Homo sapiens: one gene and its partner. The protein of the gene in region 1 purifies or fractionates together with the protein of each later gene. This does not show direct contact. Each region holds a gene or a part of one and is shown in the gene's direction. Other genes may lie near its edges. The genes, in order: DYRK2 and XPNPEP3.

Region 1 (15,344 bases):
AGAAGGAAGTGCATGGCATAACTCTGCCCCGTCATCCGGGATTTGTCGGGCTTTCCCACCCCACCTCCTCTCACAGTTGAAGTGGCAAAACCTGTGACCTTTGAACAGAGGCGCACTGTGTGCCACGCACGACGAGGCGCGGATGTGAGACGGGAAAGCAATTTTTTTTTGGTCTTCAAGGAAAAGAGAGGTTGTATATGGCGAATAAAAAAGGCAGGGAAATTCTCCACGTGTCTTGGAAGGGAAGGGGGAAAGAGATGTGTCGGGTGGGGTGAGAGGAATTCGAGGTGTCGCTCCCTCACCGCAGAGCTGAAAGGAAGGTGTGTCTCTCCCAGTGGCCGCGCAGGGGAAAGGCTCGGAGTTGTAAGGAAATAGGAGATGTCTCTGATGTTTATTTTTGCCTAGCAACCCACAGCCAACTGCTTCCCCAGCTGCCGTCCACACGCGCCTCTCTGCCTCCCCTTGTCCTAGCGACTGGCGAGCGGTCACTTGGTGTCAGTAAACCGGGGAGGGTGTGTGGTGGAGGTGGGAGGGCAGCCCCCTCTTTCGCCCCTGCTCAGGGTCAACGAGCTCAGCGGCCGCCCCTCCCGGGACTTGCCTCTCCGAGGTGACCCTCGCACAACTAAGTTATCTACATGATGAATTGGGGAGAGGGGAGTGGCTAAGTCGCTGGGACCAAGAATGGGGGGACGGGGAAGCAGTACTGTCTGTGAGCAGCCATTCAGTTCGAAGAGCTGAAAATGCATTTATGTTTAGGGGTGCGCATGGCAGGGGAGGGGTCTCTGCGGCGCTTTCGGCCGGAGGGCAGCAGCGGTAGGTTGAGCTGTAGGGCAGAGAAGGGGCGCCGCGGGGCCGGGGAGGGGAAAAGGTCGCCGGAGTGGAGCCGAGGGAAGCAGTGCAGATGGCCGGAGGGGGCGGAGGAGGGCGAGCGGAGGCCGCCGAGTTTTCCGGGGAGCGGAGGGGCGGCTGCGCGCAAACCGGGGGACTGAGAGGAGCCGGGCGGGAGGTTGGGTGGGGGTGGGGTGTGCGTGGCCGCGGCCGGGGGAGCCGGGGGCGGGGCCTGCGGCGGCGGAGGAGGGCGGCGGAGGGCGGCGGGGGCGGGGCCGCGCGCCGGCGCCTGTGTGTGAGTGCGCGGGGGCGCGCGCGCGCGGGCCCGGGAGAGGCTCCCGAGCCAGGCGGTCTTCGGTCCTCGCAGCGCTTCCAGCTCCCCGCGCCCCTATGTGAGGGAGACGGGGAGGCCCGCGGCGCGCAGGGGAGGGCGAGGCATGTGCACGGGCCGGAGGGTGCTGCAGCCGCCCGAGGAAGAGGAGGACGGCGGCGAGGAGGAGAGCGGGGGGCTCGCGGCGGCGGGCCCCGGCCGAGGGGATGCAGTGGACTGTGTGTGTCTGGCTGTAGCAGACGCGAGGCGGCGACGAGGCGCCGGGGACCCGCGCGAGGGGCGGCCGGGAGGCGGCGGCGGCGGCCGCCAGAAGTAGCAGCAGGACCGGCGGCGGCGACGGCAGCCCTGAAATGCATTTTCCTCTCCAGCGGCCATGTTAACCAGGAAACCTTCGGCCGCCGCTCCCGCCGCCTACCCGACCGGTAAGGAGGCCGTGCCGCCGCGCCGCATCCCCGGACCCCCGCCGGCCCTGGGCAGCCCCTGTGGCGCGGGCGGCCGCTGCCTGCGGGACCTCGAACAAAGTCGGCGGCGCGGCGCGGGGGAGCCCCCGGGCGGACGACGCGCCCCGGGCTCCATGCAGGGTTGTGCGCGGCCCCGAAGGCCCCTCCGCGGGGAGCCCTCGGCCCGAAGAGGCTTCTGCCTGCCGGGGGCCCGGGCGGGGACCGTCCAGGCCTGCCGCCCCGCCCTGCGCTGCCCGGGGCTTGGCGTGGCCGTGGCTCCCTGCTCAGCTGTCCAAACCCACCTCCCGGCTGCTGGCCGTCTGCAACGTGGGCCGCCTAGCCCCGGCGCGGCCCGGCTCCCCCGCCGGGTCGCGAACTCGCGCGCCAGGGCCCCACTTAACTTTGCAGCTGCCCGCGCCCCGCCCGTGGGTGTGCGCTGGGGAGCCGTGACCCGAACGCCCGTTTTTACTGCCCCGGTCTCTTCCTCCGTCTTTCTTTGGAAGAGGGTTGTCGCTGCCCAGCGGGGTTGGAGGGGGGGTCTGGGTGACTTTCTCCCCCCTGACCCTCTTTTGTCTCCTCCCGCACGTGGCTTCCAGGCCGAGGTGGGGACAGCGCCGTTCGTCAGCTTCAGGCTTCCCCGGGGCTCGGTGCAGGGGCCACCCGGAGCGGAGTGGGGACTGGCCCGCCCTCCCCCATCGCCCTGCCGCCTCTCCGGGCCAGCAACGCTGCCGCCGCAGCCCACACGGTGAGACCCAGCCCGCGGGCGGCCCGGGCGGTGGGGGCGGGAGGGGCCCCAGGCCGAAGCACCCGGACTTGGAGGGGTCTGACGCCGGGAGAAGAGGGGTCGAGATACAAGCAGCCCCACGCCTCGGGCCGATGGTCTCTCGTCGACGCCGCCCTGGTTAAGTTGGGCGAGCCCAAAGCTGCAGCCACAAAGGAAGATTCGTGGCGTGGGCCCCTTACTTCCCCTCCAGAGCTCGCCCACCCATGACCTCCTCTTCCTAGGAACTTCCTCCTTGCTGCTTTCCTTCTTTCCTCATTTTTCGTCCTTGCATCCCAGAGTTCCCTTCCCTGACCCGGTAAACATCTCTGTCCTTCCCCCACCTCCCCGTGGGTAGTGGGTATTTATAGAAACAGATACGTGTTAGGGGACAGCCAGACCGGCCTGCCCGGAAAATCGATCCCCCAAAGAGCCTCCCAGGCCTGGCTCCAGCCAGCAGGGAGCATCGCCAATTGTCCCCCGCGTGTGTAAGCATGTTTTATGAGTGCTACAGGTTTGAGCACAGCAGAAATTGTAATCAACATTAACAAAAATAAGGGCCGCCGCAGCAGTCAAAACAAGCCACCCCTGTAGGATTCTGCAGTTGGACATTATTCAAAAGGAAAGGGCAAGCGTTGCTTTGGAGGTGGGAAAGAAAAAGCACCTAACAGGTGCTGTGGTCTCTGGGAGGGGAGAGGCCAGCGTGGGACTGGTTGCTGGTGGCTGCGGAGACTGGCAAGCTGGATTCGACTAAAGCATGTACCTTTTCTCAGCTCCCAGGGATCACCCTTGGATGGTGATGGCCAGCCTGGAGGAGGTCTGCACTTGGAGGAGGTGATGGTTTGGAGGTCTTTTTTTCCCAATTGGATTTTCCACAGGAACAGCCTAAGATGGTTCTGTGTGAGGGAGGCTTGCTAGGGATTGGTTTTATTTGCTAAGTGAAAGTTGAGTTCTTGAAGAAAAGGCCATCTCCGGTCTACAGGGGAGTAGCTCTGGGGACATATGTTATGGGGAAACTTGTTTGTCAGAGAACTGTGAGGGGATGTCTAGACTGTAGTTGCACCTGTTAGACTTGGAGAGATGTGTGCAAGTTTCGTAGGAAAATGTTTTGTTGCTGTTACTATCTTCCCCCTCCCTCTGTCTGTCTCTCTATCCTGACACATCTGGTCCCAGGGGCTGGGAATTCATTGCACAGAGGTTAACTAACCTGTGTTGGACTGTGGATGGTATAGTAGGATGGATGATTCTGTATATTACTGTTAAGTGTTCTTGTCACAGTGATATTTAAGGGACTGCCATTGATTTTAGGGGTTTGGATTTTTTTGTTTGGGATCATCTGACAATTTGGAAAATATAATACCCAGTTTTTTGCTATGTGTTGATGTAATCACATGACATGGTGTGAGCTGGAAAAAGAACTATTTGGTTTGCATGTGGATTCCAATTTTGTAAGGATGGGCTTTGCTTGATCAGAGCCTCTTTGCAATTGAAATACATGTAATGAAAGTAGATGAAACGACAAGTCTCCACTGGAGGGAGAGCCTGTGGTGCACCAGAAAAGGAAGGATGCGAATGTGCTTCTCAGTACTCCTCATAATGGAGGCCTGTATTTTGCTGTGGCATATGCCAGATTTACTTGTTTTTAACGTGTGTGTAAACTTCGGTATGCTGTTAATTATTAGATGCTTGACTTTGAAGGTGTGAATTTGGGTTTCGATGGTGGTTTAGTTTTGATTTTATTTCTATAACATAGCAGATTTCATAGTACAGGAAAGGTTACAAGGACCACAGAGTTTATCTGGTTCTATTCTTTCAATTTATAGATGAGGAAACAGACTCAGACAAGGTAACTGGTTTCATCAAGATTCCCCAGCCAGTTCATATCAAGGCCAGAGTGAAAGCCTACATCCTCCTGCATCTAGTTTTAATATACTGATGGAGACTGCTAATTCTAGGAAATTGTACTAGCCTCATTATAAATGCAAGAACCTTTGTAGATCCATATTCCCATATGTCTGTCAGATTTTTATAAATTTTTAGTTATTATTTCCAGAGTAATTACACCTAGGAAGAACTTCTAGAATGAATGGGGGGCGGGAGGGCATTAAGGAGATAAAAATGATCTTGTCATAGGAGCTTGCCCACATTTTCTCTTACAGGTGATATAGTAGGCAGGTTAAATATATGATTATAAAGATTATAAACTTTGGAATTTATCTAGACCATTGCCCTTTTGTTTTATATCTCCATGTATAAGTTGTTTTACACTTTAGTTATTTCTGTTTGTGTGAGAGAGAGAAGTGTGCCCAATCACTGTCTTACTTCCTATTATTTTTCTATTAATGTTAATTGGTAGTTATTAATAGAAGTATTTTTAAATTCAAAAATATTAAAATATGTATAACTTTTGTAACTGTTTTACTATGTAAAACACTCCAGTTATCAGTTTTACCTTTATAAAATAATTCAAATTGAAATACACATTTTAAAAAATGGCAGTATTTTGAAGAAGAAAAAGTAGACATTTTTCTTTCTGACAGGGCCACACAGACTGTCAGAATGTTTGAGGAGGAGCTAAAATTCCAGTCTTTTTGGACTCAATTCTATTACCATAATACTATACAGCATTTCTAAGATGACTTCAGAAAAGTTTTTAAACGCCCAAGACTATTATCACAGTGGAATATCTGCTGTTTGCCATTTTCTTATTGGAAGAAATGAAAACTACCAAACTGGTTAGACTATTGTTTTTATATAATATTTAATACCAAAGTACTTGATGATCAAAGAAGCCTTTGCAGGTCTCTCAATTCGAACCCATAAATTGTAGCTATTTTAACAATTGTATTATGTTTTTATTTTTTGTTTTGTTTTGTTTTGTTTTTTTGAGACGGAGTCTCACTCTGTTGCCCAGGCTGGAGTGCAGTGGCTCCATCTCGGCTCACTGCAACCTCCGCCTCCGGGGTTCAAGCGATTCTCTTGCCTTAGCCACCCAAGTAGCTGGGATTACAGGCACCCGCCACCATGCCTGGCTAATTTTTGTATTTTTAGTAGAGATGGGGTTTCACCATGTTGGCCAGGTTGGTTATGAACTCCTGACCTCAAATGATCCACCTGCCTCAGCCTCCCAAAGTGCTGGGATTACAGGATTGAGCCCCTGTGCCCGGCCTCAGTATGTATTTTTAAATGTGACACACACTGTGCTATACATTGGCATATCGGAATAAGCCATGATCTCAGACTTCAAGAGGCTGAGCTGGAGGGAGAGGTTTTTAGTATCCTTAAGTTTATGATGTAGTCTTGACATACGTATTCTGGAAATGTTCTGGCATTTCTAGTCCCTCAGCACCCCCACCCTGCTCTCTGCCCCATTTTTTATAAGTCAGTTAATTGTGCTTTTGAGCTTGATTGTGATTTTAGAGTCCTGCAATGTTTGAGATTCAAAGTCTTCTTTTGCTAGAGCTTCTCAAATGAATCTCTAACATCTGGAAAGCTTTTAAGATTGCATGTGTTGCTTTTAGGTGTTTGGTTGATGTGTTTGTTGCAAGTGTTTTATACATGGTTTGATTGATGTGTCTGCTACAGGTACTTTATGCTTGGAGGTCCTTGGCCTCCAAGTCTGTGCGGATCCACTGCAAGCCTAACGTCTTGTGACTTAGGTCACCAGGGACGTTTCTTAATTCCCTGGGCCTTGACTTCATGTTTCCTTATGAAGGTACACAATGTAGTTCTCAGGAACAACTCCAAGAGAGGCAAGAGTTAACAAGGAGGATCTATTGGCATGTGTTCTTCCATCCCAAAGATATTTATTGAGGGCTTACTATATGCCTGGGTTTATGTTAATGAGGACTTGGAAACATAAGAGGGGACCCAGCCCTGGAATTGCTCACAGCCAGATGAGTACATCTGATGTTAAAACAATTGCAATAAAGAGAAATAAGTAAAAGGGTGAATCACCTAGGTATGAGAAAGGAGATTACAAGAAATATCTGGAAAGGACAATAATAATGCTCTCATTGACTGACTACTAAGCACTTTACACATATTACCTTATTTAATCCCCCTAAAAGCCCTAATGAGGTAACTTTGTTACCTTCTTTTTGCAGACAAGGGCACTGAGGTTAACAGAGATGAAATAAGTTGCCCTGGGTCACACATTTAGTAAATGGTGGAGCTGGATCATTTAATGTGTGTCTAACTGAAAATCTACCATTATGAAACCTGACCTCACTAAAAGCAGAGGAGTGTAAAAGTGTGTGGTGTTTTTTGGGTCCTGGGCTATCTAGCTTTGTTCTCTTGGAGAGAAGAGTGACAGTAGTTGATGAGAATGGAAGGACTCCGATCATTTAGCCTCTACATTTTAGAGCCTTGTGTTCTTACTGGTAAGTTCTTGCATTAGCTATGGAAATAGGTTACAGCCACAGGCCTTGGGCAAAAGCAAGAGTGGTCTCAGGTTGAGACTTTTAAATCAGACTCTAGAAGCACTATGGAGAAGAGATTTGAGGAATTCTAGACTTAGAAGCAAGGGGGCATGTTACGATGCTGCCTCAGTTGTCCCAGTGAAAGACATCAGGAGAGTGAGATGAGGCAGTGTTGATGGAAAGGGCCTGGGATAGTAATGATGCATCTTCTTGGTGACTTGGGAAGGTGAGGGAGGTGTTGAGATTTTCCAGGCACACAGTGCTGAGGATTCATTCGCAGGTGGATAGCCTGAGTGACACATGGAGGGGAAGCCTTCTTTTTATCAAAAATGGAGGATTATGGAAGTGGGAAACTGGTTTGTTAGAAAAATCATGAGTTAAGTTTGAGTTGCTTATGGGAGAGGGAGCTGATCGATAGTTGGATATGTGTGTCTTCCACTCAGGAGATAGCACCTTGGAAGGTCTGAGCTCAGGGAACAAATGCGCAAACATCAGGCCATGGGCAGTTGCTGAAGCCCTGGCTGTGTTCAGGATCAGTTGCAGGGGGTTATGGGAGTAAGAAGCCAAGAGAATCGAGATTTGAACCCTGGGGAACTCTTGAATCCACCTAAGGTTAGGTAGTAGTTGATGCTGCAAAGGAGACCAAGAGAAGGCAGTTGGAGATATAGAAGATGGTCGTTTCTTGTCAGTCTCGTTAGTTTTAGTTACTAAAACATTTGTGATCATGTATTAAATTATGCGAAACACAAAAATTGCTTGAAGTAAATTTCTGAGGCTTGGTTTTACTTTGCTGTGTTTTTAGAAATCTCTAAAGCCCCAAGGTTAATTTTGTCCTAATGAAGAGCTTTATGCTTTTTATAGCATGTATACAGGTAATGTGAATTTTTCTGCTGAAATATCACCACTCCACTCTAAAGAAAATGATTCTATAGGAGAGAGATATTTTGATTCAGGCCCCTTTATTGTCTGGTGTTTGAAAGACCACAGTGGACAGGAGAGGGTGCAGAGAGCGAGGCTGGGGAAGAGAAGCATTGGACAAGCCTGTACCTCTTTTATATATGCCCAAGACTTGCCTGATTCATTTTTATGGACTGCCCTGCTTTTGGCATAGAACAAGGGTAAAATAACCTTTCTAGCTACTCTTATTGAATATAAGGTCACCTAGCATGGAGTATCATCTATGAGTGTGATAAAAAAGCTCAGTTATAAGTCTAAGAAATGATATCCCTGAGCCTATGAAGTCACAGTCAGACAGGCCCCAAGTATTGTCTTCTGTTTTGTTTTAGTTAGAAGTGGGCAGAGAGGAAGCTCACACTCCACATAGTCATTGTGCATATTATGTATCCAATAAAGAAAATGTGAACGTCTTGGTCTGCTAGTAAGAAGGAGTTGGAATTTCATTTTGTAATCCAGGTGTTCCCAAATCATGTTTTGAATTACTGTGTTACATATACAGAGCCCTTCTGCTCTTTCAGTAGTATGTAAAGCCCCAAAGGTAGGATTTAAAAGGGGATAGTAGAAAAAATACTGATGGCAGTGGACTTCATCTAGTTAATTGTAAGTTCCTGGAGGGCAGGGACTCTGTCACTTTGGCAGCCAGCCTCCTGTTAATACCAGTTGACTGAATGAGGTGGATTGTGATGACAAGGTGGTGTAAGATTTCATACAGAAATCACCTGCCAGGCTGCTTTAAGACTAGGGGTTGTCCAAGGCAGGAATTCCTAACTGGGAGAGGATCCTGGCTGCCAGTCCTCTCCTACCCCTTACCTCTCAGCAGCCATAATGCTTAAAGGAAATCCCAAGAAGATTCTCAGTAGAGGGCTGGGGTCCCTTGGTTCACACCATTGATAGAATTTAGACAGGAATGTTCAGGGATGGCATGCATACCTGAAACAGAGGTTGCTTCTTTGGATTCCTATTTGGAAATCTGAGTATCCCAGCAGCTTGTAGAAATGGACATCTTCAGAGAGCTGAGCCACTGACCCCTCCGGAGGAAGGCCAAACAGTGTGGTCGTTGCTTGGTTTGTTGGGCTGAATGCCTTAAATGGTTATTACAGTTAGTAAAGCCTGGAAACTTTTAAAAATAGGTCAGGGGTCCATAAGATACTATGGTACACATCTACATGGGAATCTTTCAAGTCTAAAAACACAGGGTTTTTGTTTTTGTCACTGGATCATGTGTGCACTTAGGTTTCATCAGATTTTCAAGGAAAGGGGAAATACTGGTGATGAAGTGTTTTCAGGATAGAGCTCTAGGTATTAGGGAAAGAGTAGTGAACAAGACAGACATGGTCCCTGTCTTCATGTTAATAAACTACTAGATGAAATATGAAAGGTGCTGTGATCTGGGGGTGGAGGAGCCAACATAGAGTCTTATGTGTGCATGTTTTTTTCTGTATCCTGTTTCATTTTTGTATCAAATGTGGATTGAGTGGAACACCTATGATGTGCCAGGCCCTATACTAAGTGTTAGATATAGAATGATAAAGTTAAGGTCTCTGTCTCCGTGGGGAACCCTGAATATGTACAGCAAACCATCTTGTCTGTTAGGCATGGCATTTATGAGGTCCATTTTTCAGGATCACATGTTTTGTGGCTTTTACTCAAACCAAATGGGATTTTGTAAATGTGAGGTTGGGGGCGGTGGTGTTGTTGGGGGTTACTTATACACCATTTGAACAGACACCACTTCTTTTCTATTTATATTTCCTGTCTGAATTCCAGATTGGCGGCAGTAAGCACACAATGAATGATCACCTGCATGTCGGCAGCCACGCTCACGGACAGATCCAGGTTCAACAGTTGTTTGAGGATAACAGTAACAAGCGGACAGTGCTCACGACACAACCAAATGGGCTTACAACAGTGGGCAAAACGGGCTTGCCAGTGGTGCCAGAGCGGCAGCTGGACAGCATTCATAGACGGCAGGGGAGCTCCACCTCTCTAAAGTCCATGGAAGGCATGGGGAAGGTGAAAGCCACCCCCATGACACCTGAACAAGCAATGAAGCAATACATGCAAAAACTCACAGCCTTCGAACACCATGAGATTTTCAGCTACCCTGAAATATATTTCTTGGGTCTAAATGCTAAGAAGCGCCAGGGCATGACAGGTGGGCCCAACAATGGTGGCTATGATGATGACCAGGGATCATATGTGCAGGTGCCCCACGATCACGTGGCTTACAGGTATGAGGTCCTCAAGGTCATTGGGAAGGGGAGCTTTGGGCAGGTGGTCAAGGCCTACGATCACAAAGTCCACCAGCACGTGGCCCTAAAGATGGTGCGGAATGAGAAGCGCTTCCACCGGCAAGCAGCGGAGGAGATCCGAATCCTGGAACACCTGCGGAAGCAGGACAAGGATAACACAATGAATGTCATCCATATGCTGGAGAATTTCACCTTCCGCAACCACATCTGCATGACGTTTGAGCTGCTGAGCATGAACCTCTATGAGCTCATCAAGAAGAATAAATTCCAGGGCTTCAGTCTGCCTTTGGTTCGCAAGTTTGCCCACTCGATTCTGCAGTGCTTGGATGCTTTGCACAAAAACAGAATAATTCACTGTGACCTTAAGCCCGAGAACATTTTGTTAAAGCAGCAGGGTAGAAGCGGTATTAAAGTAATTGATTTTGGCTCCAGTTGTTACGAGCATCAGCGTGTCTACACGTACATCCAGTCGCGTTTTTACCGGGCTCCAGAAGTGATCCTTGGGGCCAGGTATGGCATGCCCATTGATATGTGGAGCCTGGGCTGCATTTTAGCAGAGCTCCTGACGGGTTACCCCCTCTTGCCTGGGGAAGATGAAGGGGACCAGCTGGCCTGTATGATTGAACTGTTGGGCATGCCCTCACAGAAACTGCTGGATGCATCCAAACGAGCCAAAAATTTTGTGAGCTCCAAGGGTTATCCCCGTTACTGCACTGTCACGACTCTCTCAGATGGCTCTGTGGTCCTAAACGGAGGCCGTTCCCGGAGGGGGAAACTGAGGGGCCCACCGGAGAGCAGAGAGTGGGGGAACGCGCTGAAGGGGTGTGATGATCCCCTTTTCCTTGACTTCTTAAAACAGTGTTTAGAGTGGGATCCTGCAGTGCGCATGACCCCAGGCCAGGCTTTGCGGCACCCCTGGCTGAGGAGGCGGTTGCCAAAGCCTCCCACCGGGGAGAAAACGTCAGTGAAAAGGATAACTGAGAGCACCGGTGCTATCACATCTATATCCAAGTTACCTCCACCTTCTAGCTCAGCTTCCAAACTGAGGACTAATTTGGCGCAGATGACAGATGCCAATGGGAATATTCAGCAGAGGACAGTGTTGCCAAAACTTGTTAGCTGAGCTCACGTCCCCTGATGCTGGTAACCTGAAAGATACGACATTGCTGAGCCTTACTGGGTTGAAAAGGAGTAGCTCAGACCTGTTTTTATTTGCTCAATAACTCTACTCATTTGTATCTTTTCAGCACTTAATTTTAATGTAAGAAAGTTGTTCATTTTGTTTTTATAAAATACATGAGGACAATGCTTTAAGTTTTTATACTTTCAGAAACTTTTTGTGTTCTAAAAGTACAATGAGCCTTACTGTATTTAGTGTGGCAGAATAATAACATCAGTGGCAGGCCACTGATTACTTCATGACTGCCACGCATTTACAGATTGGTGTCAAAGACATTCACTATGTTTTTATGGTTCATGTTATATCCTCCCCAGGGTGACAGCCCCTTAAGGCCCTCCTTTTCCCTCCATGCTCCAGGTCCATGCACAGGTGTAGCATGTCCTGCTTCCGTTTTTCATAAATTAATCTGGGTGTTGGGGGTAGTGGGAGGAGAACGGTCAGAATCAAAGTGACATTCTAAGAAAAACTGTACCTTAGAGATTTTCCTCTAGTGCTCAAACAAATACAAAATAAGATCCCCAAGGTTTAAACTGCCCAGTTAGCATTCTGACATTCTAAAAGCCGGCAAAGCAGCTTTTAGTGGATAAATGGGAATGGAAACGTGTGTGTTCCTCCAAATTTTCTAGTATGATCGGTGAGCTGTTTTGTAAAGAAGCCTCATATTACAGAGTTGCTTTTGCACCTAAATTTAGAATTGTATTCCATGAACTGTTCCTCCCTTTTCTCTGCTTTTCTCCTCTCTGTTCCTCTTTTAATACCACACGTCTGTTGCTTGCATTTAGTTTGTCTTCTTCCTTCAGCTGTGTATCCCAGACTGTTAATACAGAAAAGAGACATTTCAGCTGTGATTATGACCATTGTTTCATATTCCAATTAAAAAAAGAACAGCAGCCTAGCTACTTAAGGTGGGGATTTCCATAGTTCCAAAGAAGATTTAGCAGATTAGAGTGAGTTCACACTTTTCAGGTGCCACTGTAAGGTTCTCTCAGCCTGGGAAACTATCAACTCTTTCTTTAAAAAGAAAGAGGGTTGAAAATCCTCTGGACGAACAGAAGTCACTTTGGCTGTTCAGTAAGGCCAATGTTAACAACACGTTTAGAGGAGGAAAAGTTCAACCTCAAGTTAAATGGTTTGACTTATTCTTCGTATCATTAGAAGAACCCCAGAGATAGCATTCCTCTATTTTATTTTACTTTCTTTTGGATTGCACTGATTGTTTTTGTGGGAATGACACTTTATCTGGCAAAGTAACTGAGAGTTTGGTAAAAGAATATTTTCTTCTCTGAATAATAATTATTTTCACAGTGAAAATTTCAGTATTTTATCACTAATGTATGAGCAATGATCTATATCAATTTCAAGGCACGTGAAAAAAATTTTTTAGTATGTGCAATTTAATATAGAAAGATTTCTGCCTGTTTGGACAATAGGTTTTGGGTAGTACAGATTAGGATAAGTAAGCTTATATATGCACAGAGATTATTGTATTACCTGTAAATTGATTTACAAGTACTTAAAAGCGTGGTCCCCAGTGAGGCCAAGAAAGTTTCCGGTTAAGTTCTTTAATAATAATCCTACAGTTTATCTTAAGAAAAAAAAAAAGGTTTGAAAAAAACACTTTAATTTAGGCTTCGTTGGTTGATGGTGGAAAAAAATGCTCAGGAAATATTTCAGATATTTGCCAAAAAACCAGTAATAAGGTTACCTTATTAAAATAGTGATATTTGCTTTACTATTTAAGGTGTCACTGATAAATTAATTTGTACTTCTGTGTTTAGAAATTATAGCTTCTTTTCCCTTAGTCAAATTTTTTAGCATATTATACACATTTCTGTGTAATCTGTGGAAGTGCAATAATATGTTAGTAAGTTACATTTTAAATAATGCTCATGTGACAATACTCCCAATCAATGGCTTATAGAATTTAAAGATCTGTATATTAGATTTTGGCTTAAAGGCATGAGAAGTATAAGACTTGGTTTGGTGGCTTTGTAAGACCACCAGCCTCTTAATGATGGTTAGCTTCTTTAGGTCATTAAATCAATAAAAACATATAATGCTGTTTTGCTCTTCTAATGCTCCTCTTCCATTTCCAGTTATCTTCACATTTACATTTAAATATACAAACCTGAGCCTGCCATTATTAATTTCCCTATAAAATGACGATACATGTGAACATTTATAAATGGACTAATACTGCTTGTCTTTCCCCCACCGCACAAAACTGGTTCTTAAGATGCCAGCAATGAATTTGAGACTATCTTTATTTATAAATGGAAACCGGAAACTTTTATACCAAACTATAATAATGTGCAGCACTGTAGGGCTTTTTTTTTTTTCCCTCCAAATACAGTGAAATTTTTTTATTCACAAGAGCTGCCACATCTCAGCATTTAGTAATAGAGCTGCTTTAATAAAATTCTAGTTTGATTGTCATGTCAAAAAAAGAAAAATGTTGCATCTTTGTGATTTTAAAACATAAATTAATGAAGGCTCTGATAGGCTATTAGGAGTTGGCTTGGAAACAGTTTTTGGTCTCACAGGTTACCATTGTTTGGGGATGTCTGAGCTGTTTTCAGATCTAGGAATAGCACAGTGTTGTCTTGTCTTTGGCAGTCTCATTTGGCTCTGTTTCTTGCACCACCAGCGTGTTCATTACCACTTAAATATATTGCTACAGCAGTGGAACAACAGAGTGGTGCAAGACACTGTAGATTAACGGTAGAGGAGAAATTGTGCCCTTAGTGTTAACAATGTGCCTTTTGTTCTGAATGCCATGTTGTAGGGCATGCATTTTTTGGCCTCTTTAACTCTTCGAATTCTAGTCAGTAAGAATGGAACCCATCTCTGCAAAGATACATCTGTCTTAAATATCTAGTTACAGGCCTTAATAGAAACCATAAGGCATGACTCATCTTCAGGCACTGAAAAAAGATAACCATCAGGTAGTGTTACACAAGGACTTCCTATATTTAAGGGGTTAAAGATGGTCTTTGTTGTATCTTAACATCAGACTGATTTTTACATTTTTTTTTTGTTATGCTAACACTAGACAAAAATCAACTGTATTTGTAAAAATTTACCTCAAACCATTTAATTTTATAGTGTGATTAATCCCAGGGCATTTGGTATGAACCAAAGTGCATTCCTTTTATATGTGCCTGGCTCTAGTAAGGATGGCCAGGGATTTTTACAATTTGGGTGCAAGGCACTTAAGCCACTTTTAAACTTAATGGGTGGTTTGGGGTCGTGTTAAATGACTCCATCAGAATGTTAGAAAACACTTTAGGCATCAGTAGCATTGGGCCATATTGGAATCCTAAAGTGTGAATTATTTTAAGGAGAGCATTCATTTTTGTAATTTTTTTCATCAAAAATATTTCTGGTAAGCAGAAGACTTTTTAAAAAAACTGATCTGGTCTCGGTAAAGGTTTTAATATTGCCCAACATAATGCTGTAATAGCATTAAAAAAAGTATTTGTGAACTCTGTTTCTTAGGGGCTTGTACATCTCTCTGCTATGGACATACATAAAATTAATTGTAATTATACTCAGCTCAACTGCTACAGTTCTGTCTAGGCAGTGGCTTGGGTTTTTATCGAGCAACAACTTAGACACGTGACTGTAATATGCTGCAACTGTGTGTACTGAAAATATGTGAAAATGGTTGAATGTGGACTGTGTATATATGTATGTAAAAATTTCTGTGAGATGCTGCTGTCGCCACTTAACATTAAATATGTTCTAGTGGATTTTAATCCTAGTGGCCAGTTCTATGATACTGTATGTATTATACAGCTGATGACAGGAGTAAGACTGTTTAGTGAATATCTGTTAAATTTTATTGTTGTGGCCAGAGATAATTTCAGAATAAAATTTTAATGTCCTACCTTACTTCTCTCCCCTTTCTAACTATAATTTAACTCCTGATCTATTTCTGGTATTATCCTTTGTCAATTAGCCTGGAGAGGGTTTAGAATGCAAAATGGATAGCTCTATATCAGGGTCTTGAGAAGTTAAAATAATTCATTCTACTAGTTTGTTCATAGCAATACTTTATTAGTTCAATATAAGTATGCAGATTCCAAGTGGAAAAACAAAGGTTTTAGTAAGTAGTTCTTGCTTTTCCCAGGATATTCTATTCCTTCACCTGTCAGATTTTTATGTTAACTTTT
Region 2 (15,344 bases), on another chromosome or scaffold:
TATTCACCTTATAATAATTTTTTTTTCTTTTTTTTTTTTTGAGACACAGTCTTGCTCTGTCGCCCAGGCTGGAGTGCAGTGGCGCAATCTTGGCTCACTGCAACCTCCGGCTCCCAGGTTCAAGCAGTTCTCCTGCCTCAGCCTCCCAAGTAGCTGGGACTACAGGCAGATGCCACCCCGCCTGGCTAATTTTTGTATTTTTAATACAGCCACTGAATAATTTCTTAAGGTTTATGTTTGATTGATTTGTTTGGCTTTTTATATCTGTGTTTTGTTTTACAATTAAAAATTTTTTAAATTTTTAAATGACAATTTTAAAGCTGAAAAGTACATTAACTGAAACAGGAAATTCACCAGGTAGACTTAACTGTAGATTGGAGACAGCAGAAGTTTGCAAACTTGAAGATAAATAGAAATTATCCAGCTGGAAGAATAGAAGTACATTGTAAAAAGGCCAGGTGCAGTGGCTCACACCTGTAATCCCAGCACTTTGGGAGGCCAAGGCGAGTGGATCACTTGAGGTCATGAGTTCGAGACCAGTCTAACCAACATGGTGAAACCCCGTCCATACTAAAATAACAAAAATTAGCTGGGTGTGGTGGCAGGTGCCTGTAATCTCAGCTACTTGGTTGGCTGAGGCAGAGAGCGATCCTCACATCTCAACCTCCCAAGTAGCTGGGATTATAGGCACGTGCCACCATGCCTGGCTAATATTTTGTTTTTTTGTAGAGACACGGTTTCGCTATGTTGCCCAGGCTGGTCTGCAACTCCTGGGCTCAAACGATTCTCTTGCCTTGGCCTGCCAAAACACTGGAATTACAGGCATGAGCCACTATGCCCAGCCAAATTCTAGGTATTTAAGAGAAATGAAAACATTTCTCAACAAAAAGGGTTGCACAAGGACATTCATAACAGCATTTATTCACAATAGTATAACAACCAAAATGTCCATCAACAGGAGAATGAATATGCAAATTGTGGTCTGTTCATACAATGGAATACCACTCAGTAATAAAAAAGAACATTTTAATTACTGATCGAATGTTTTTTGTTACTGATTGAAGCACCACCATGGATGTACTGCATAGACAACCTTCTACCCTCACTGAGCATAGATTATGTTCAGTGAAGGAAGCCAGACACAAAAGAGTATATATTATATGATTCCATTTATATGATGTTCTAGATTTGGCAAACTAAGGTCAAAATAATCACAATAGCATTTGCCTCGGAAAGTAGGGATATTGATTAGAAATGGACATGTGGGCCAGGCGTGGTGACTCATGCCTGTAATCCTAGGACTTTGGGAGGCCAAGGTAGGTGGATCACCTGAGGTCAGGAGTTCAAGACCAGCCTGGCCAACATGGCAGAAACCCATCTCTACTCAAAATACAAAAATTAGCTGGGCGTGGTGGTGGGCGCCTATAATCCCAGCTACTTGGGAGGCCGAGGCAGGAGAATCGCTTGAACCCGGTGGGGGCAGAGGTTGCAGTGAGCCGAGATCGCACCACTTCACTCCAGCCTGGGTGAAAGAGCGAAACTCCATCTCAAAAAAAGAAAAAAAGAAATGAACATGAGGAGGCTTTCAGGGGAGATGGAAATGGTCTGTATAAGGCTTGAGTCCAAAATCTATAGGGCAGACTTCAGTCCAAACTCAGGCAGGGTTTATATTATAGTCTTGAGGCAGAATTCCTTCTCCAGTATACCAAAGCAGTTGTGGCATTTGTGTTTATGTATTGTGGGTTACCTTTTGGTTTGTGTTTCAGCCAGCTAGGCAACAAACTGTTAGAACTTTTCTGACCCCTTCAGCGGCAACGTTGAATCCAGAGTCTCTGATTAGTGGACCCATATCAGTAAAGTTGCCTGATGCAACTGTGTTCCTTCTACCATTATCCCACACCATAAATATTCATTCCCACCCACATTCCCAGATTTTTGTCTTTCGGAAATTGGAAACCTCATGCAGTTCTTTTTTTGTTTTGTTTTTTTGAGACGGAGTTTCACTCTTGTTGCCCAGGCTGGAGTGCAATGGCGCAATCTCGGCTCACCACAACCTTCGCCTCCCAGTTTCAAGCGATTCTTCTGCCTCAGCCTCCCGAGTAGCTGGAATTACAGACATGCACCACCATGCCCAGCTGATTTTGTATTTTTAGTAGAGATGGGATTTCTCCATGTTGGTCAGGCTGGTCTCGAACTCCCGACCTCAGGTGATCCACCCGCCTCGGCCTCCCAAAGTGTTGGGATTACAGGCGTGAGCCACCGCGCCCAGCCCCTCATGCAGTTCTTTTTGGTGTGGAGTGGACCTCCTCATGGGTCAAGCTTTCTGCCTAACTTGGAGCCTGCTGGGACTTGAGTGTAGTTACAATTCTAGTAGAACCAAGGCAACTGCCTCAAGGGACATACCTACAAGTTTTCAGGCAAAACAGGGTTAACCTTCTCAGACGGGGGTGGAAGGGCCACTTCTGCTGGCAACGAAGACTCAGCAGAATTTAGGAGTTCATTGTTCCCAGCTTCAATAGGTTTGGTACATGAATTTGTCAAAATTGTACCGTTCAAATGTATGCATTTTAGTGTATATAAAGACACTTTGGGAGGCCAAGGCAGGAGGATCGTTTGAGCTGAAGAGTTCCAGACCAACCTGGGCAACATAGTGAGACCTTGTCTCTAAAAAAAAAAAAAAAAAAAACTATTACAAAAATGATTATTTAGTAATACTGTGGTGGGCTGGGGTATGGGTACATTATGCTGTGGGTTTCTTATGCTATTATAGTTAAGCATTCTTCTATTAGGGGACATTTAGAGTTTGTCTAATAATTTACAATTATAAAATTACAGCGAACATTTTAGTACATTCAGCTTTTTTGAATTTCAAATATTTTCTTTGGATATATTAGAGTAGAATTATAAGCTCTAGTTATATGAGCATCTTTAAGGCCTTTGATGTAATTGGCTGTATTAATTTATACTCCTATCAACAGTATGTGAGAATACATATCATGTATCATCCCAGGTCACTTTTTTATCTCGTAATTGCTAAAGAAACTGTTATTCTAAAGACACTTAAGTGCTAGTACATTACTAGTAGCCCAGATGTTGACTAGTTTATCCCATGGTATCTGCTTCACCTGTCAGAAGTGGGTCCCTAGGCTTTCTTGCCTTTTTTTTTAATGGTAGTCTATGCTGTAAGGGATTAAACAGGATCATGGCTGAGCCTCATCTGCCCACTGACTGCACTCATGGCTCAGTGCTTCTTTTGGCCCTACTTCATGTCTCTCCTGACCATTTGAAGAAGAGACTGTGTTGCTGCTCCAGCTTGAAGGATTGTTGCCCTTCCTACTGAGCACCTAGGACATGATTGAGCTCCTGGCCATATTGATAGATTGGTACTTATTAAACATCAACAGTGCCCCAGCAACAGCAGCATCTTGGGGTTTTTCTAATCAAACTTAGTAGCAAACTTCTTAGAATATCAGATTATCTAAGTTCAGGTTCTTTGGTTTTCCCGTCCCCAGGTTCACCGCACCTCAGGCAGAACTCTATGAAGCCGTTCTAGAGATCCAAAGAGATTGTTTGGCCCTCTGCTTCCCTGGGACAAGCTTGGAGAACATCTACAGCATGATGCTGACCCTGATAGGACAGAAGCTTAAAGACTTGGGGATCATGAAGAACATTAAGGAAAATAATGCCTTCAAGGTACTTCACTTCTCTTGACCCCAGTTCTCAAGAACACCTAGCATGCTGCTAGGTTTTTACCCTATATAAAGCTAATTAGACTTAGAAATGGGACAGATGTAGTGATTCATGCCTGTAATCCCAGTAGTTTAGGAGGCTGAGGCAGGAGGATTGCTTGAAGCCAGCCTGGGCAACATAGCAAGACCCATCTATATACATGTAGATATATACACACACACACACACACACACACATATATATATACACACACATACGTAGATATATATACATACACACACAGGGTTTTTTAAGTAAAAAGAAAAGATTTAGAAATCATCTTTGTGATCTATAAAAGGGATTTAGCTTTAACATGGATTAAAACAAAGGAAGTCAGTACTTATTTCTTCCAGAAGATGGCAGCACATGCTGATTCATTACATGCTGCATAACTAGCTCAGTATTCAGAAAACTTAAAATGAAGTCTGGTGCCGACAGGGTGAAAAAGGAAACAAGAAATGAGGAGAAGCCTGGGAAACATAGCAAGACCCTATCTCTACAAAAAATTTAAAAGTTAGCCAGGTGTGGTGGCACACACCTCTAGTCTCAGCTACTTGGGAGGTTGAGGTGGGAGGATCACTTGACCCCAGAAGTTCAACGCTGCAGTGAGCTATGTTCGCACCACTGCACTCCAACCCGGGCCACAGAACAAGGCCCTGTGTCTAAAAAAAAAAAAAAGAGAGAGAGATTAACTTTTAATCCTTTTATGGGTTATTCTGTAGGTCAAAGGAGAAGGTATTTGTTGTTTAAGTGACATTTTTGACACTTCAGCAATATTCCCAAAGACCATGTCATTAGTGAATTTTTTTTCTGCATCCAAAATGTGATGGTGTTCAGTAAAAACGTAAAACCTCAGCTTTAAAATTAAGATACTAGATGCCTAAGTCAGATAGACCATTAGGCATCTCCTACCTACAAGTTAAGCCTTCTAGGACTTCTGTTATCAGTAAAAATGAAGCTATAAATTGGCTGTTGCTTGGGCCAACAAATCTTTAACTAACTGACGGAAATATCCAAGCTGGCTGGGCACAGTGGCTCACACCTGTAATCCCAGCACTTTAGGAGGCTGAGGCAGGCGGATCACATGAGGTCAGGAGTTCGAGACCAACCTGGCCAACATGGTAAAACCCTGTCTCTACTAAAAATACAAAAATTAGCCAGGCATGGTGGTACATGACTATAATCCCGGCTATTTGGGAGGCTGAGGTGGGAGAATAGCTTGAACCCAGGAGACAGAGTTTGCAGTGAGCCAAGATCACACCACTGCACTCCAGCCTGGGCAGCAGAGCAAGACTCCATCTCAAAAAAAAAGAAAGAAATACCCAAGCTGGTAGGTGCCCAAAAGTGTGCCTTCTCCACAAGTTGCTGTGAGCTATTTAGGGTCTCCAGAGTAGATTCCTGAGAGGGATGTGTGAACGAACATTGGAAAGAGAACTGTGATAATAGTCATCCTCTCTTTCCCAAGAAAAGAGATTTTTTTTTCTTTCTTTTATTTTTATCTTTCCTGTGGTACTGAAGAAAAGAGACTTTCATTTGCCACAGTCATTAGTTGGAATTACTCAAGTCTGCATGTATGTAGTATATTAAATAGCGGGAATGGAAATGTGGATTGATGAGAATGCCATTGGCAGAATTGCATGTAAGAGGTCGCAGTTTTTCAGGTGCCTTTAAGTATTAGCCCAAGGAGGGATTAAACTGAAGTGGCAGAACCATGGGGGAGATAATAACACATATCTCACTGATTTATACTTGCCCAGCATTCCCTGTAAGAGGTCATTGCTCTAATGATACTGTGACAATTATCTTTTCCAGGCTGCTCGAAAATACTGTCCTCATCATGTTGGCCACTACCTCGGGATGGATGTCCATGACACTCCAGACATGCCCCGTTCCCTCCCTCTGCAGCCTGGGATGGTAATCACAATTGAGCCCGGTAAGGAGAGGTGTTACAATAGTAGTATGAGGTAAATGTTTGTTTGTTTGTTTGTTTTTGAGATGGAGTTTTGCTCTTTCGCCCAGGCTGGAGTGAAGTGGTGTGATCTTCACTCACTGCAACCTCCGCCCCCCAGGTTCAGCAATTCTCCTGCCTCAACCTCCTGAGTATCTGGGATTACAGGTGTCGGCCACCACGCCTGGCTAATTTTTATATTTTTAGTAGAGACGGGGTTTCGCCATGTTGGCCAGGCTGGTCTCGAACTCCTGACCTCAGGTGATCCACCTATCTCAGTCTCCCAAAGTGCTAGGATTATACGTGAGCTACCGCGCCCAGCCACATTGTTTATTTTTACCTCAACCAATGTAATTAAGTTAGAAGAGACAGGAAAAAAAGTCCAGTGTGGAAGGTAATTTTATTTTCGATTTATCTTTTGTATTCTTATTTAATATCACACAATTTGTTCAGTTTGACTCCTCCAATAAACAACAGATGGGGAATACTTCCTATAAGTAGATATTAAGAAATGAATCTTTTTTAATCCTGCCTTTCCCAGGGCCAGTTTGTACTGGTCTCCCATTTAGTAGTGGGGGGCTGCTCAAGCTTCCAAAGCCCCCGGTGCTTGTGTGCAGAGAGACAGGCAGACACACTATGCTCTCAGTTTCAACACCTCTGCAAGCTGCATTGAGCTACCCAGCACCATCCCACTCCTTAGTATCCATCGCCTTCCTCATAAGCTTCAGAGAAAGCTAACAATCGGATACGTTACCTAACTTGAATGGTCCTGGGTGTTGGGCAGGATTCTGAAGAGAAGCAGTGACCACAATGGTGTGTGAAGATTGATGTTGTCAGAGTTGATGGTTAAATACTGATGCTGGTTTTGTTTTGAAAACAGATCTAAATTTTAGATTTCAAGTATTTTAATCTCTGTATAAATTATGGCTGTGAAATGTCTTTTATGCCACCCTTTGAACCTAGTCATACATTGCTATCTGTGGCCATAGATATATCATTTAGTTCAATCTGTTTGGTACATGGGCGCTTCCTTAGACTGCGCTACATTTTCCTTTGCTGATCTTTCTTTTTCAATCGCAGAGCAGTATCTGTGAGGATAGTGGAGGAAGTTTACAACTTGTTTAATATAAAAAGCCCTGGTATGTGTCTAACTTCATGATTAGAAAGGGTACCTGGGGTTCCTACATTTTTCCAAATGTACATTAAAGTCTTTCAGTTTCTCTTGTATTTTATATTACACACATCAGATATATTTAAATCTTATAATGACTGTCTCTGCAGCTTCCAGTTGTCAAGGCTAATAATCTCTAAATGTTTCTTTGAATACAGTTTAAATATATTTTGTCTTTATTTTTGCAAGGTGCTCTTTTTCCAAGGGACTCTTAGGCAGGGGAAGAATGCACTTACATAATCTGCTTGTCCCCCACATATATTGACGTACTTTTAAATTAAGTAACTTTATTGGCCTGCTTGAGCCACTAGAATATGACAGAATCATGATCAGCATTGCCGTAGTTGTATTTAGCTTGTAGTCCAATATAAAGATAACCACAATAATAATTTTAGTAATGATACCAACATGTGTTGACCATTATATGCCAGCCACTTTGACATGTATTATCTCATTTAATCCTCACAGCTTTACTAGGTAGGTACCATAAAGATCCAGTATTACAGAGGAAGGAATTTTAACCCAGAGGTTAACTTACTTGCCCCAAACCACCCAGTTACTATCATTCCTGAACAGCATGTTCTTCTTTCTACTTCACAGGCATTTATATTCCAGAGGATGACAAAGATGCCCCAGAGAAGTTTCGGGGTCTTGGTGTACGAATTGAGGATGATGTAGTGGTGACTCAGGACTCACCTCTCATCCTTTCTGCAGACTGTCCCAAAGAGATGAATGACATTGAACAGATATGCAGCCAGGCTTCTTGACCTTCACTGCGGCCCACATGCACCTCAGGTTCAAAATGGGTGTCTTCTGGCAGCCCTGCACGTGTGCTTTCTGAGTGTCTCTGTGTGTGCATTAATATATGCATTCCATTTGGGAGCATAGCAGCTGTGTGAATGTATGTAATTGTGTGTGGGGGGTTTTTTGTTTTAAGTAGTTAGAAGTCTGGGAAAATGAATTTTTGAATAGTATGTTACTGCAGCTTTGGTAACATTAATTCTATAGAATTAATGATCAGAGCAAGTTTAATTTTTAAACATAAAGGTCTTGGTTACACATGTCCATGCATTCCAGTTAACACATTTAAACATATAGAAAATTCACTTCTTCTTTCAAGTCCTTCCCTTTCTATACTTTTGCTGAGATCAACCCAATATCATAAGAAGTTTGTGTGATGCCTGTATTTTTAGCTAATTACCAAGGTCTCTGCCTATGCAAAAATTCATCTTTCGGTGATTGTGGGCGGCCAATACATACCTTCTGTAACTCCTCCCTACCTATTCTAGATCCTGCATATCTACTGGAGCCATATGAGCCCTCAGGGGCACTGGTGTCCTGCAGTCTTACTAGTCAGCCACAGTCCAGGTTCCAGCAACACTAGCTACCTACCAAACAAAACACTTCTGAGCTTTTCTTGCCATTTGGTTGCCTGGGACCTGGAAAGTGTTTAGATTCTTGATAAAGATGGAAATGGAAGAGAAAGAAAATTATATATGTATATACTAAAGATCCAGACATCAGGGCTGGGCACAGCGGTTCCGCCTGTAATCCCAGCACTTTGGGAGGTCCAGGCAGGTGGATCTCTTGAGACCAGGAGGTCAAGACCAGCCTGGCCAACGTGGTGAAACACTGTCTCTACTAAAAATACAAAAATGAGCTGGGTGTGATGATACATGCCTGTAATCCTGGCTACTTGGGAGGCTGAGGCATGAGAATTGCTTGAACCTGGGAGGTGGAGGTTGCAGTGAGCTGAGCTCATGCGACTGCACTCCAGCCTGGGTGACTGAGCAAGACTCTGCCTCAAAAAAACAAATAAATAAATAAAATCCTGACATCCTGCCATCTTTTCTCTTCAATTTAAAGTTGATTTCTTAATGATGACTTCAAAAATTAATAAAAAGAAAAGAAAAAAATGATTTCTGGCCGGGCGTGGTGGCTCAAGCCTGTAATCCCAGCACTTTGGGAGGCCGAGGTGGGCGGATCACGAGGTCAGGAGATTGAGACCTCCTGGCTAACACGGTGAAACCCCGTCTTTACTAAAAATACAAAAAAAATTAGCTGGGCGTGGTGGCGGATGCCTGTAGTCCCAGCTACTCAGGAGGCTGAGGCAGGAGAATGGCGTGAACCCAGAAGGCAGAGCTTGCAGTGAGCCAAGATCGCGCCACTGCACTCCAGCCTGGGTGACAGAGCGAGACTCCGTCTCAAAAAAAAAAAAAAAAAAGAAAAAAAAAAGAAAGATTTCTTTCGCAGATATCCCTGCTCCCTCTATAGATTCTTAATGCACTGACCCTCACAGGTTACCCTTTTAGCTGTTGTGCTGCGCAGGAGCAGATCCTCTACTTACGTACCCTGTCAGAGTCACAGTAGTAGCGCCCAGTTTTCAGAGAAGTACCCCTGTTATCATTCTGTGATTTCCTCTAGTGCTAATAGAAACAAAATATGGAATCTACCAAGTACCCGTAAATATCCTATGATTCTTATCTTTCTTTGATACTAGCACTGGGAGTGCAGTGGTAAAGAGTCATACTTCTTTTTTTTTTTTTTTTTTGGAGACAGAGTCTCGCTCTGTCGCCTGGGCTGGATGGAGTGCAGTGGCGTAATCTCAGCTCACTACAACCTCCACCACCTGGGTTCAGGCAATTCTCCTGCCTCAGCCTCCCAAGTAACTGGGACTACAGGTGCACGCTGCCATGCCCAGCTAATTTTTTGTATTTTAGTAGAGACAGGGTTTCACCCTGTTGCCCAGGCCGGTCTCAAACTCCTGAGCTCCGGCAATCCGCCCACCTCAGCCTCCCAAAGTGCTAGGATTACAGGCATGAGCCACTGCGCCCGGTGTAAGAGTCATATTTTTTTAAACACAAACATTGGATACAATTATACAGCAACTCAGTTTGCAAGATGAACAGGGCTAGATTACCACAGATAGCTTATTTAGGAGCGTCTGTGATAGAGGGAAGCTTTAAGAACCAGTGTGTTCACCTCCTTTAAACCTGGATATGAGGTCAAGATGTATAAAACATGCCAATTGTTAGAACACAAATTTGAGGGTTTCTTAAAAAAACAATTTGTATTAGGGAAGCACAAGCTAGGGGATTAACAATCTCTGTAATGCTGGAAGTTTGCCTATCTTATCAGGGAAACCCAGGGTACAGAGTGAAAAGCAGACAGGCAGTGACTTCCTCAAGAGACAGATAATGTGAAAACAAAAGTGATACAAATCATATCCTGACAGTGCTAGCCTAGGAATGCCTGGCTTTGCGCACCTTATCTAAGCAGCTCTCAGAATGGAGGCTGCACAGCTGGAGTCTCCATCCCCCATACCCACCTTCCCACCTCCCTCCAATTTCTCAATCCAGAGCTTTTTAAAAAAAGGGGAGGGAAATAACTCCACAGCTCTGGCTGCTCACTTCCCAGGCTCTGTGCCCCCAACAGCCCTTTCCTTGGATTGTGTTTCCTTTGTTCATTTGTAATCCAGGAATAAGGAATTTCCTTTTCTTCTTGTATCATTTTCTTTTCTTTTCTTTTTTTTTTTTTTTTTGAGACGGAGTCTCACACTGTCACCGGGGCTGGTGTGCAATAGCGAGACCTCAGCTCCCTGCAACCTCCATCTCCCAGGTTCAAGCGATTCTCCTGCCTCAGCCTCCCGAATAGCTAGGAATACAGGCGCCTGCCACCACACCCGGCTATTTTTTTGTATTTTAAATAGAGACGAGGTTTCACTGTGTTGGCCAGGCTGGTCTCGAACTCCTGACCTCATGATCTGCCCGCCTCGGCCTCCCTAAGTGCTGCGATTACAGACGTGAGCCACCGCACCTCCTGTATCATTTTCTATGGTCTAAACTTTTCTAGCTAAAAGCCTAGGTAGCTTGTATGTATAGCAGCATACTTGGACATGAAACACACTTCTGGTTAGATTCCAGTCAAGTTCTATAGGTGTTATTGGTAGGCAGAAAGGCTGTTGTAGAATTCTTCTGGTGATTTTCAGTCCCTGACCCAGGTATATTGTCCTTTGAGTCCCAGATTAACTAACTATAGCAGCTAAGCATTTGAATCAGACTTCTCATAGCAATGTTATGGGCTGTCTGATATATTCAGGATTTGTTGAGCAGATAAGCTGTGTGTGATCTTACTCATTCTCAGCCATGCCGCAGACATACCCATTTCCCTTTAGTAATTTTTTAATACAGAGAATGCTATTAACTGTTACTGGATATCAAATAATTTTATTTTTCTAATAGTATTTTCCAAATATTTCTTAAAATTCTTAAAATTTAGGTTAAAGTTTGCTGGTCTCTTACATTTAATAAAGCTGGGACTTGAAGACTTACCATAGTTTTCAACTGCCTTTGCAAGTTCATAAACTTCTAAGGGTAAAAAGTGAATAAGATAAATTCAGAGTTTTAAGGTAAAGGCTTTATATTAGCTTTTTTTTTTTTTAAAGGTTTTTTGTGGGGTTTTTTTGTTTTTTTTTTTTTTGAGATGGAGTCTCGCTCTGTCACCCAGGCTGGAGTGCAGTGGCACGATCTTGGCTCACTGCAACCTCCATCTCCCGGGTTCAGGCAATTCTTCTGCCTCAGCCTCCTGAGTAGCTGGGACTACAGGCGCGTGCCACCATGCCCGGCTAGTTTATTGTATTTTTAGTAGAGATGGGGTTTTACTGTGTTAGCCAGGATGGTCTCAATCTCCTGACCTCATAATCTGCCCACCTCAGCCTCCCAAAGTGCTGGGATTACAGGCGTGAGCCACTGCACCCAGCCTTTTTAAAGTTTTTAATTGACATATAATTGTACGTATTTACAGGGTAAATAATGATGTTTTGATACATATATAATGATCAGATCAGAACAATTAGCATATCCATCACATTGAACATTTATCATTTATTTGTGTTGAGCCTTTAGTTCTTTTTTTTTTTTGAGATAGAGTCTCACTCTGTCACCCAGGCTGGAGTACAGTGGTGTGATCTTGGCTCACTGCAACCTCCACCCACCGGCTTCAACCAATTCTCCTGCCTCAGCCTCCCTAGTAACTGGGATTACAGGCACCTGCCACCACACCCAATTTTTGTATTTTTAGTAGAGACGGGGTTTCACCATCTTGGCCAGGCCAGGCTGGTCTTGATCTCCTGACCTTGTGATCCACCCACCTCAGCTTCCCAAACTGCTGGGATTACAGGCATGAGCCACGGCCCCCAGCCAGAGACAGTCTTGCTTTGTCGCCAGGCTGGAGTGTAGTGGCGCCATCTTGGCTCACTGCAACCTCCAACTCCCTGGTTCAAGCAGTTCTCCTGCCTCAGCCTCCCAAGTAGCTGGGATTACAGGCACGCACCACCATGCCCAGCTAATTTTTGTATTTTTAGTAGAGACAGGGTTTCACCATGTTGGCCAGGATGGTCTTGATCTCCTGACCTCGTGATCTGCCCACTTTGGCCTCCCAAAGTGCTGGGATTACAGGTGTGAGCCACCGTGCCCAGCCGAGCCTTTAGTTCTAAGTATAATAAATAATATATATACCAGGCATTCCTATTAAAAATCTTAACTTAAAAAAAATTACTCAAATGTTACTACTGGAATTTTTCTCCCTGAATTGAAGATACATGGTTAGATCATTAACAATACCACCTAAATGAAGGAAACATATCTGGATATCCAGTGTCACATACTTTTATGTATTTATTTCAGGAATTACTATTTTGTCACCATAATTAGGAAACAGACTGTGTTCTTTATTTGAAACACAACAGTATAAATACTATAGTAAAGTTGGGTGCAGTGGATCACAGCTATAATCCCAGCACTTTGGGAGACCAAGGAGGGATGGTCACTTGAGCCCAGGAGTTTGAGACCAGCCTAGGCAACATAGAGAGACCTTGTCTCAACAAAAAAATTTAAAGTTAGCCAGGTGTGGTGGTTTGCACCTATAGTCCCAGCTACTCAGGAGGCTGAGGTGGGAGGATCGCTTGAGCTTAGGAGGTCAAGGCTGCAGTGAGCCATGATTGTGCCACTTCACCCTGGGCAACAGAGAAAGACCCTGTCTCAATAAAAAAGAAGAGAAAAACTGGAGTGAGAACTCTCCTCCTCTCATAATCATAGTATCCACGTTAGGAAAATGCTTCTGAGAGTAACTTAAAGTACTGTGTGTGCATCTTCCTTCAAAACCTTGCTTTTTTCTCCGTTTTTGTAAGGTGAGAAAGGGAAAAACCTTCACCGTAGAAATACTGTCTTGAGATTAAGATACAAATAAAACATGTTAAACCTCCATCTAAAGACATTGCAACTTATTAAAACAGAAAAATGTACCTTTGTTATGTCTTTCCAAATATCCACACCCACACCCTGTTCAGCTTTGTTAATAATACAGAGATCAGAAATGTGAAGCACAAATGCTGCTTCTCCCCCTCCTGTTCCCATGTCAGAGATGGAGAAGAAAGCACAGTGAGCTGTTCACCAGTCCAGCGGTGACCTCGGAGTCCTTTGTAACAGTGTTTCCAATAACTTCTGCCAATAAAACAGAATTTGAGTTAGAACCTATCTGCTGTCCCTCAACTAGTGTCTGATAGCTGAGAATGTAATTCGTTTGTGTGTCTATTAGAAAATTAGGCAGGCACCACAGACAGTAGCAACATAAAGGAACCTGCTTAGAAGAGGTTTTTATGGTGTGATTGTGTTTTTTTTTTTTTAATTTTTGTTTCCTGAAGTAGAATCCATAGCTCAAAACAAGTTTTAAGCCTGAGAAAATATAATTTGAGGTGTTTTTTATGCTCCTAATGAAAAGATGAATGAATGCATCATTAAACCTTAACAGTAGAGCAGAATTTCACTGTTACAAACCACATGGGTTCTCCTGGTTGTGCTGCTGTTCTCTACCTGTGTGTCACTGAGTTTGAGCATCATTATTGTTTGAATCAGAGGACCCACTGGAATCAAGGCTTCTTGGAATTGCGCAAGAATCTGAGAAAACTTCAATCTTTACCAGCATTTCTTAATGCTTTCCATGACTTTTGTGCAATTATATAAGTTCAGTTTAGACAAAATGCTGTTACTTTTTAAGGCATTACTAATAACTGAAAATAGTTACGTCATTGCCCATCAAGGGAAAAGCACTTGTAACTGTCATTTAAAAAAAATAAAACTATAAAACAATATAGAGGGGTATGGTGTGTGTGTGTTACTTTAGAATCTAGAGTTTACGGTCTATTTAGTATAAACAGTATAAACGTGAGACCATCTGGTTTTACAAAATAATTTACAAAGTATTCATTAGCTGCTGTCACAAAATCATGATAGCAAACTTGAAATGATTTTATCAGTCTTATAGAGGAAGAATCTGGTGGATTTGATCCAGCCTATTAAAAGGTTGGCACAAAACTGACTGAAAGGTCTCCAGAAAGTCCCCATAACACTCAAGACTGTAAACTGTAGCCATGCACATTTTATGAAGGATGAATTTTGTGGGGAAATAGGATCAAGTTGCAAAATTATGAATATTTGACCTTTGTCAACCATATAATGAATCGTAAGTGTAGCCATCTCTCTCTCCCTGTTAGGAACCATCTTTAAAATCTGAGACTGTCTATGAGGAGTACCTTTAACATTTCTCACGTTCTGGCAGGCACAAAAAGATACTTTGTATGGCACAATGGAACAAATTTGAGGGGGCTGAGTGGTAAGTACATATGACTTGTAGAAAAAAAATTATTATACATCCTTTAACTATGATAAGAAAAATATGTACAGTGAGCCACCATGGCTGACCAACAAACATGAAATTTCTTATAATGGGAATGGATTTCTAATCCAGTTGAAATATTTTATATCAAATATTTCAAAATAAGCTATAATTTGCAGCATATACATGTATTGTTAGAACAGTCACCCTGCTCACAGACTCCACTAAGAAGTACTTCATCCACAAAAGTCGTAAGTATCCAGCATATGTAAAGCAGAGATCTGGGCTGTCTGAGGCTGCATCTGGAAGCAGCCCTGGCCCAGTCTTGAGCCCCCATGACACCTATGGCTAGCAGCCCTTACACATCTGAAACACCAACCACTCTAGCTAAATTCCATGACATCCTTGTCTTTCATGTGACACTGTGCTCAACAGCTGCCACTGAAGTAGATGACCAAATGGTAACACCTCTCCTTCTCCATATTTCAGTGAGCTCTTGAAAAATAATTCTACATCTTATGACCCTAATTTAAATACCCTAATTGAAATATCATTTAGGGTATTTAAATTAGGGTCATAAGATCTAGAATTATACTGGTAAGAATTACTCTGGACATAAAAATTTGTGTGACTGGTCAGATGTGGTGGCTCATGCATGTAATCCTAGCACTTTTGGAGGCTGAGGTGGGAGGATCACTGGAGGCCAGAAGTTCAAGACCAACCTGGGCAACATAGCTAGATCCCCATCTCTACAAAAAAATTATATTAGGTGTGATGGTGCATGCATGTAGCCCCAGCTACTTAGGAGGTTGAGGTGGGAGGATC

The links.
Region 2: the proteins of DYRK2 (region 1) and XPNPEP3 purify together in Homo sapiens (affinity purification with mass spectrometry; 2 studies listed by BioGRID and IntAct, with this or other methods). This does not show direct contact.

The regions. Positions count from the first base shown.
Region 1 is NC_000012.12:67,647,602-67,662,945, forward strand, and holds the start of DYRK2 (dual specificity tyrosine-phosphorylation-regulated kinase 2), read left to right. Parts: upstream 1-1,143; 5' UTR 1,144-1,532; coding exon 1,533-1,581; intron 1,582-2,195; coding exon 2,196-2,344; exon of another isoform or gene 2,345-3,193; intron 3,194-9,504; coding exon 9,505-11,112; 3' UTR 11,113-15,344. UniProt on the Homo sapiens protein: Serine/threonine-protein kinase involved in the regulation of the mitotic cell cycle, cell proliferation, apoptosis, organization of the cytoskeleton and neurite outgrowth. Functions in part via its role in ubiquitin-dependent proteasomal protein degradation.
Region 2 is NC_000022.11:40,918,821-40,934,164, forward strand, and holds the end of XPNPEP3 (xaa-Pro aminopeptidase 3), read left to right. Parts: intron 1-3,512; coding exon 3,513-3,693; intron 3,694-5,541; coding exon 5,542-5,662; intron 5,663-7,448; coding exon 7,449-7,615; 3' UTR 7,616-13,995; downstream 13,996-15,344. UniProt on the Homo sapiens protein: Catalyzes the removal of a penultimate prolyl residue from the N-termini of peptides, such as Leu-Pro-Ala. Also shows low activity towards peptides with Ala or Ser at the P1 position.